3 separate regions of the Homo sapiens genome follow, and all the other regions are reported to be linked to region 2. Evidence: microRNA targets listed by miRTarBase, many of them from high-throughput screens and not tested one by one. Region 2 holds a microRNA gene; each other region holds the end of a gene's coding sequence.
Evidence for each region. Region 2 holds the annotated microRNA hsa-miR-32-3p (CAAUUUAGUGUGUGUGAUAUUU, at 1,684-1,705, opposite strand). A microRNA usually pairs through its seed, bases 2 to 8, with sites in the 3' UTR of a target mRNA and lowers its output. Matches are read on the target gene's strand: a 7mer-m8 pairs with bases 2 to 8, a 7mer-A1 pairs with bases 2 to 7 and ends in A, and an 8mer does both.

Region 1: the mRNA of DAZAP2 is a reported target of hsa-miR-32-3p. Seed matches in the 3' UTR shown: 8mer at 1,088-1,095 and 7mer-m8 at 1,343-1,349.
Region 3: the mRNA of PPARGC1A is a reported target of hsa-miR-32-3p. Seed matches in the 3' UTR shown: 7mer-A1 at 839-845, 7mer-m8 at 1,495-1,501, 7mer-A1 at 2,208-2,214, 7mer-m8 at 2,394-2,400, 7mer-m8 at 2,506-2,512 and 7mer-A1 at 2,971-2,977.

The regions. Positions count from the first base shown.
Region 1 is chr12:51,242,268-51,245,267 of GRCh38, forward strand. DAZAP2 (DAZ associated protein 2) reads left to right here. Exons shown (of 4, transcript NM_014764.4): 4 at 63-1,666. The coding sequence ends at 191. SMAGP (small cell adhesion glycoprotein) reads right to left here. Exons shown (of 4, transcript NM_001031628.2): 4 at 2,291-3,000. Among named protein-coding and RNA genes, the nearest start is that of DAZAP2, 4.9 kb to the left of the region's middle.
Region 2 is chr9:109,044,548-109,047,698 of GRCh38, forward strand. MIR32 (microRNA 32) reads right to left here and starts at 1,751; the gene lies at 1,682-1,751. The region is part of intron 14 of TMEM245 (transmembrane protein 245); the gene reads right to left.
Region 3 is chr4:23,793,132-23,796,131 of GRCh38, reverse strand. PPARGC1A (PPARG coactivator 1 alpha) reads left to right here. Exons shown (of 13, transcript NM_013261.5): 13 at 207-3,000. The coding sequence ends at 310. Among named protein-coding and RNA genes, the nearest start is that of PPARGC1A-AS1, 26 kb to the right of the region's middle.

The DNA.
Region 1 (3,000 bases), not on the chromosome of region 2:
CTATGTCCCCTTCGCTTATATTAGCTGCCCTGTGCCCATTCTATCATGTCATTTCCTTTCAGCCTCCACCTCCTGGATGCCCTCCCAATGCTGCTCAGCTTGCAGTCATGCAGGGAGCCAACGTCCTCGTAACTCAGCGGAAGGGGAACTTCTTCATGGGTGGTTCAGATGGTGGCTACACCATCTGGTGAGGAACCAAGGCCACCTCTGTGCCGGGAAAGACATCACATACCTTCAGCACTTCTCACAATGTAACTGCTTTAGTCATATTAACCTGAAGTTGCAGTTTAGACACATGTTGTTGGGGTGTCTTTCTGGTGCCCAAACTTTCAGGCACTTTTCAAATTTAATAAGGAACCATGTAATGGTAGCAGTACCTCCCTAAAGCATTTTGAGGTAGGGGAGGTATCCATTCATAAAATGAATGTGGGTGAAGCCGCCCTAAGGATTTTCCTTTAATTTCTCTGGAGTAATACTGTACCATACTGGTCTTTGCTTTTAGTAATAAAACATCAAATTAGGTTTGGAGGGAACTTTGATCTTCCTAAGAATTAAAGTTGCCAAATTATTCTGATTGGTCTTTAATCTCCTTTAAGTCTTTGATATATATTACTTGTTATAAATGGAACGCATTAGTTGTCTGCCTTTTCCTTTCCATCCCTTGCCCCACCCATCCCATCTCCAACCCTAGTCTTCCATTTCCTCCCGCCAGTCTCCATTGAATCAATGGTGCAGGACAGAAAGCCAGTCAGACTAATTTCCTTCTTTCCTCGCACTTCTCCCCACTCGTCATCTTTTAACTAGTGTTTCACAAGGATCCTCTGAAACCCTCTCTGTGCCCCAAGTACAGATGCCATTACTTCTGCTTTCGTATCTCCTCAGGCAAAAGTGGAGGGTGCCTTATGGGCCCTCCTCATAGGTTGTCTCTGCATACACGAACCTAACCCAAATTTGCTTTGGTGCCAGAAAAACTGAGCTATGTTTGAACAAAGATGTCGTGCAAACTGTACTGTGAACAACAGTTGGTTTAAAATATGAGGGGCAAGGAGGAGGATGCATTTCAAAAGCTTGATTGATGTGTTCAGAGCTAAATTAAGAGGAGTTTTCAGATCAAAAACTGGTTACCATTTTTTGTCAGAGTGTCTGATGCGGCCACTCATTCGGCTCCCCAGAATTCCTAGACTGGGTTAATAGGGTCATATTGTGAATGTCTCACTACAAAATGACTTGAGTCCAGTGAAATCTCATTAGGGTTTAAGAATATTTCAGGGATCCTTAATGTTTTGATTTTTGTTTTCTGAAATTGGATTTTATTTTATTTTATCTTATAATTTCAGTTCATCTAAATTGTGTGTTCTGTACATGTGATGTTTGACTGTACCATTGACTGTTATGGAAGTTCAGCGTTGTATGTCTCTCTCTACACTGTGGTGCACTTAACTTGTGGAATTTTTATACTAAAAATGTAGAATAAAGACTATTTTGAAGATTTGAATAAAGTGATGAAGTTGCATTACACCTCACTGCAAGGATTCTTTACTTAGCTTGTTTTTAGATTTCTTCTATATATATTTTATTTATATCCCATCTAGAATTCAGCTAGGTGCTGCTGCTGCTCTGTTTCCTTTGATGACGCTTTGAAATAAAGGCAGGAGTACAAGCCTAAGACTTGATCATTTCATGAATTCCATTCCAGATGTTCAACTTTTCATCATTTTACTCCAACCTCTTACAAATTTTGGAATTTCGGACCTAAACTTAGAAATGAGGGAACTATTGATTCTCCTAACTTGCTCTAAAGTTTGGCTTGAAGAAAAGGTTCTGGTATAGCAATTTGTATACGTTGAGGATGACCTTTAGTTTCTCCAATGTTCTATGTGGAGAAATACTGAAAACTCATAGAATCTAGGTTGCCAAGATAGATTCCTCAGCTCTTTTATTTATTTTTTGAGACAGGGTCTCCCTCTGTCACCCGGGCTGGAGTGCAGTGGCAGTGTCTGCTCACTGCAACCTCCACCTCCCGGGTTCAAGTGATTCTCCTGTCTCAGCCTCCTGAGTAGCTGGGATTACAGGCACCTGCTACAACACCTGGTTCATTTCTGTACTTTTAGTAGAGACGGCTTCACTGCGTTGGCCACGCTGGTCTCAAACTCCTGACCTCAAGTGATCTGTCTGCCTCAGCCTCCCAAAGTATTGGGATAACAGGCAGTGAGTCACTGCACCCAGCCAGATTCCTCAGCTCTTGATCTTAACTTGGTTGGGTTTGAGCTTGGACAACAGAGGCAATACATTAAGACTTCAAAGGAGATCTAGCTTTAATTCCAAAGTGAACAATATCTGATGAGCTAATAATTTATACCAAAATGTGCCTTTTAAACACAACTTATCTTGAGACTAAAATCCAAGAAGCTTCTTGGCTTGATTCTGAGGATACACTGGGAAAGGTGGTAGGTTGATTTTTTCTGGTTCCTTCTGTATATATGTAGAAGGGATTCTGGGAAATTCTGGCCCTTGCCAGGATGGAGGCTTGAACCAACTCATCTCCCAGGGTACTTTTTTTTTTTTTTTTTTTTTTGAGACGGAGTCTCACTCTGTTGCCCAGGCTGGAGTATAGTGGTGCAATCTCAGCTCACTGCAAGCTCCGCCTCCTGGGTTCAAGCCATTCTCCTGCCTCAGCCTCCCAAGCAGCTGGGACTATGGGCGCCCGCCACCACGCCCAGCTATTTTTTTTATATATTTTTAGTAGAGACGGGGTTTCACCGTGTTAGCCAGGATGGTCTCGATCTCCTAACCTTGTGATCCGCCTGCCTCGGCCTCCCAAAGTGCTGGGATCACAGGCGTGAGCCACCGAACCCGGCCCTCCCAGGGTATGTTTCTAATGATGTTCCCCTGGAACAAGCTTTCCTGCACCATCTTTGTCTCAAATCCCTGAGATAGTTCTGCAAACTTCTAGAACTTTCCTAGGGTTCTTATTGCTTGGAAGAGAACATATGTAAAGGC
Region 2 (3,151 bases):
GGTATGTCTCAAGTAGAAAGTGAGCTGGTGGGAGAGACCAGTCAGCTTTTAGAGACACAGTATATACAATAACCAGTGGGAAAAGTACTCGCCAGCTCCCTTGACTGCTCTCTACATATTTATGGGGTACATAATAATGTTTCAATACATATAATGTATAGTAATCAGATAGGGGTAATTGGCATATCCATCATCTTGATCATTTATCATTTTGGTTTTTTTTTTTTTTTTTGAGATAGAGTCTCACTGTCGCCCAGGCTGCAGTACAGTGGCATGACCACAGCTCACTGCAACCTCCACCACCTGGGTTCAAGAGATTCTCCCACCTGAGCCTCCCGAGTAGCTAGGACTACAGGTGCATGCCACCAAGCCCAGCTAATTTTTGTATTTTTAGTGGAGATGGGGTTTCTCCATGTTGGCCAGGCTGGTCTTGAACTCCTGACCTCAGGTGATCTGCCCGCCTTGGCCTCCCAAAGTGCTGGGATTTGAGGCGTGAGCCACCGTACCTGGCCTCATTTCTTTTGTTGGGAGCATTCTGTATCTTCCTTCTAGCTACTTGAAATGATATAATTTATTGTTGAACTACAGTCATTCTACAGTGCTGTAGAACATTAGAACTTATGCCTTCTAAGTAATTTTTGTATCCTTTAACAAATCTCTCTCTACCCACCCCTTCCCAGCCCCAACCTCCCTTGAGAGGTCACATCTTCCCTTTCTTGATTAATCTGCCCTGGAAACCCAGCTCCACAGGGTGTCATATAGCAACCTGGCTGACATTAGATTTCCAGCATGAGGGGAACGGCCGAGCTGCTGAAGGGCACAGGGGATGAGCTGCTTACGTGGAATTCTTCCATTCTCACCCTCCAAAACAGTGGTGAAACACAGAAACATACAATGACAGCATCACAATAGATCATCTGGAGGCTATGGTAGTAGTAAATATTAATTCAATATTTTCATACAGTAATACATGGTTTTGTGTCCTTGACAATGCCTAGTGATTGTGGATGCTTACTCTAATGCTAACTAAAAAAATAACAAGGGGTTGTTTCAATTACATAGGCAAATAGTAAACGTGTATTTCAAAACTAGTTCCATTATTAGCCCACTAAAATGAATTTAGCAGTTTTCGAAGCATCACAATGAGAAAGTAAAAGACACATTTTTAAGGTAATTTACCTTGGAAACTTAAGTTTATGAGATGAATCTTTCATCAGGTAGGTTAAGCATACCTTTACTGTCTTGATTATTATTTAAGAACTCCAGTTAATTTAATTTCCCCAAATATGCATAAGAGATTTCTGCTTCTCTATTCCAGTGTTGGGAGAGATTTCTTCAAATAAATGAAAATACATTTTCTTACAGCTTTACATTCTTCCTTATACATTTAAATATTGTTTATACTCTTAAATCAATGAGAATTTGTAATAAATATTTCATTTGCTCAAAGTAAAAAATGGAAACACTGATTTACTAAATGATCATTGCTGACTTTTTTTAATCCAAATACTTTTAATTCTCCAAAATTGGAAGGTACCGATGGGAAGCATGTTCACTTTCCAAATGAGAATCGCATGGCATACACACTGTCTTATCTAATTCATCAGGACACCCACCCACTGGCACTGAAAAGCTGTAATCCCAGCAAGCAAGAGCCATACCCGTGTGCATGCACTCATGTGAAAATATCACACACACTAAATTGCATTGAGGCCGTGACAACATGCAACTTAGTAATGTGCAATATCTCCACCAGAGCAAGCAGAATGGGAGCATCAGGGAAGAAGGGTGTGATGTATACATTCAGGAGACAACATGCTGCTGAAGAGAGGAAAATGGTCTGGGGATAAAGGATGCATGCCACTGACTCAAAACTTCATGAAATGAAAACCCAATTGCAAATGTATTCAACTGAGAAGAATACTTATTCAGAATCAAAATAATGAGTAAGGTTCAAAACTTCAATGAGATAGTGATCATAAAGAAACCACATACTTCAGAAGGCAAAGCTTCACGAACAGACACTATCACTGTCTGGTCATGCAATTAACCCCCAATTTCAATTCCATTTTTGACTTATTCACAGATCATATAAATGAATGTAATGATTTCCACTTAGCTGCAACATAGATGATGATTAATGACTGATGCTTATAAAAGTTGGTATCACTGATATTTGTAGGCTAAACTGCACTTTGAGGACATTACAATATTTTCATAGTCATTCATAAATTATAAATAACCACTTATTTTTCCCTCAAAATCTTTTTCCATGAAGAAACATATTGCCTCTTCAACACAAACCTTCAGGATGAAAAATCCAACAGGAGCTCTTAGAAAGAGAACTCACTACCATCTTCTCCACAGGAGAAAGCTCTTCAGAGGAATCTCTGTAAAATCTGTACATTTTAAGTCTTGAATTTGAGCCAGTAAAGAAACAGCCCTAGGAACTTAAACTGCAAAAAAAACACCTTGAATTATAGCCTTAAAATTACATAACTTGATATAGCTTTGGTTAGAAAAATGTCTCAGGCCATAACCCATTCTTTAGTCTGTACCATATTTATCAGACTCATAAAAATCTATCAATTCTGAGAACCATTAGATTATAGTTCTGGTACCAAAGGTTGTTAAAATTTTTTCTGTATTTAAAATAAGGTGATAATAAAACAAATGGTTTTTAAATGCCAGTATACTATGGAACCAAGACATAAGCTACTGTTATAATACATAATTAGTGTATGCACTCCCAAGAAGGGAAGTCGAATCTAATTTGTAAAAGACTGATTTCCTCATATCGCTGTAGATGACAGCACTCTTTGTAATCTCAAATTCTCTCCTGAGCCAAAGACCTGAATTTCTAAATGCCACCCTCTTATGTCCACAAATATAAGTCATGATCTTCCCTAACCAGCTCCTCTTGAAAGAAGGCATCATGGTGTAACAGAGTATGTGCTTTCAATCAGCTGAACCTAGGTGTGACTAACAGCTTTACTTACCACTGACTGGCAAACACAACAGCTAGGAATTAAGTTTAAAACAAAAAAGGTGGCATATTTGGTATGAAAAAAGGTGACAGACATTTAGAGGATGGTCTGCTGTAAGAAAGCAGAACAAGAGAAAATTCAAAAGCTGTGATGTGAAAATAGAA
Region 3 (3,000 bases), not on the chromosome of region 2:
GAGTCAACAGGTGCGTGTTTTTGAAAGCTCACTACTCCCCATCCTCTTCCTATATATCCATATATATCCAATAAAATCTGACTATTGTTTTCTAAAGTATATTGATTGGAAGAGTTGTTATCGAATCCAGTAATCTTGAATTGGAATGATTGAGTTAATGGCCATCAGCAAAGTGTGTATCTAAACTGGCTTGTGTTTTTTTTCAGATTCAAACTCAGATGACTTTGACCCTGCTTCCACCAAGAGCAAGTATGACTCTCTGGATTTTGATAGTTTACTGAAAGAAGCTCAGAGAAGCTTGCGCAGGTAACATGTTCCCTAGCTGAGGATGACAGAGGGATGGCGAATACCTCATGGGACAGCGCGTCCTTCCCTAAAGACTATTGCAAGTCATACTTAGGAATTTCTCCTACTTTACACTCTCTGTACAAAAACAAAACAAAACAACAACAATACAACAAGAACAACAACAACAATAACAACAATGGTTTACATGAACACAGCTGCTGAAGAGGCAAGAGACAGAATGATATCCAGTAAGCACATGTTTATTCATGGGTGTCAGCTTTGCTTTTCCTGGAGTCTCTTGGTGATGGAGTGTGCGTGTGTGCATGTATGTGTGTGTGTATGTATGTGTGTGGTGTGTGTGCTTGGTTTAGGGGAAGTATGTGTGGGTACATGTGAGGACTGGGGGCACCTGACCAGAATGCGCAAGGGCAAACCATTTCAAATGGCAGCAGTTCCATGAAGACACGCTTAAAACCTAGAACTTCAAAATGTTCGTATTCTATTCAAAAGGAAATATATATATATATATATATATATATATATATATATATAAATTAAAAAGGAAAGAAAACTAACAACCAACCAACCAACCAACCAACCACAAACCACCCTAAAATGACAGCCGCTGATGTCTGGGCATCAGCCTTTGTACTCTGTTTTTTTAAGAAAGTGCAGAATCAACTTGAAGCAAGCTTTCTCTCATAACGTAATGATTATATGACAATCCTGAAGAAACCACAGGTTCCATAGAACTAATATCCTGTCTCTCTCTCTCTCTCTCTCTCTCTCTTTTTTTTTTCTTTTTCCTTTTGCCATGGAATCTGGGTGGGAGAGGATACTGCGGGCACCAGAATGCTAAAGTTTCCTAACATTTTGAAGTTTCTGTAGTTCATCCTTAATCCTGACACCCATGTAAATGTCCAAAATGTTGATCTTCCACTGCAAATTTCAAAAGCCTTGTCAATGGTCAAGCGTGCAGCTTGTTCAGCGGTTCTTTCTGAGGAGCGGACACCGGGTTACATTACTAATGAGAGTTGGGTAGAACTCTCTGAGATGTGTTCAGATAGTGTAATTGCTACATTCTCTGATGTAGTTAAGTATTTACAGATGTTAAATGGAGTATTTTTATTTTATGTATATACTATACAACAATGTTCTTTTTTGTTACAGCTATGCACTGTAAATGCAGCCTTCTTTTCAAAACTGCTAAATTTTTCTTAATCAAGAATATTCAAATGTAATTATGAGGTGAAACAATTATTGTACACTAACATATTTAGAAGCTGAACTTACTGCTTATATATATTTGATTGTAAAAACAAAAAGACAGTGTGTGTGTCTGTTGAGTGCAACAAGAGCAAAATGATGCTTTCCGCACATCCATCCCTTAGGTGAGCTTCAATCTAAGCATCTTGTCAAGAAATATCCTAGTCCCCTAAAGGTATTAACCACTTCTGCGATATTTTTCCACATTTTCTTGTCGCTTGTTTTTCTTTGAAGTTTTATACACTGGATTTGTTAGGGGAATGAAATTTTCTCATCTAAAATTTTTCTAGAAGATATCATGATTTTATGTAAAGTCTCTCAATGGGTAACCATTAAGAAATGTTTTTATTTTCTCTATCAACAGTAGTTTTGAAACTAGAAGTCAAAAATCTTTTTAAAATGCTGTTTTGTTTTAATTTTTGTGATTTTAATTTGATACAAAATGCTGAGGTAATAATTATAGTATGATTTTTACAATAATTAATGTGTGTCTGAAGACTATCTTTGAAGCCAGTATTTCTTTCCCTTGGCAGAGTATGACGATGGTATTTATCTGTATTTTTTACAGTTATGCATCCTGTATAAATACTGATATTTCATTCCTTTGTTTACTAAAGAGACATATTTATCAGTTGCAGATAGCCTATTTATTATAAATTATGAGATGATGAAAATAATAAAGCCAGTGGAAATTTTCTACCTAGGATGCATGACAATTGTCAGGTTGGAGTGTAAGTGCTTCATTTGGGAAATTCAGCTTTTGCAGAAGCAGTGTTTCTACTTGCACTAGCATGGCCTCTGACGTGACCATGGTGTTGTTCTTGATGACATTGCTTCTGCTAAATTTAATAAAAACTTCAGAAAAACCTCCATTTTGATCATCAGGATTTCATCTGAGTGTGGAGTCCCTGGAATGGAATTCAGTAACATTTGGAGTGTGTATTCAAGTTTCTAAATTGAGATTCGATTACTGTTTGGCTGACATGACTTTTCTGGAAGACATGATACACCTACTACTCAATTGTTCTTTTCCTTTCTCTCGCCCAACACGATCTTGTAAGATGGATTTCACCCCCAGGCCAATGCAGCTAATTTTGATAGCTGCATTCATTTATCACCAGCATATTGTGTTCTGAGTGAATCCACTGTTTGTCCTGTCGGATGCTTGCTTGATTTTTTGGCTTCTTATTTCTAAGTAGATAGAAAGCAATAAAAATACTATGAAATGAAAGAACTTGTTCACAGGTTCTGCGTTACAACAGTAACACATCTTTAATCCGCCTAATTCTTGTTGTTCTGTAGGTTAAATGCAGGTATTTTAACTGTGTGAACGCCAAACTAAAGTTTACAGTCTTTCTTTCTGAATTTTGAGTATCTTCTGTTGTAGAATAATAATAAAAAGACTATTAAGAGCAATAAATTATTTTTAAGAAATCGAGATTTAGT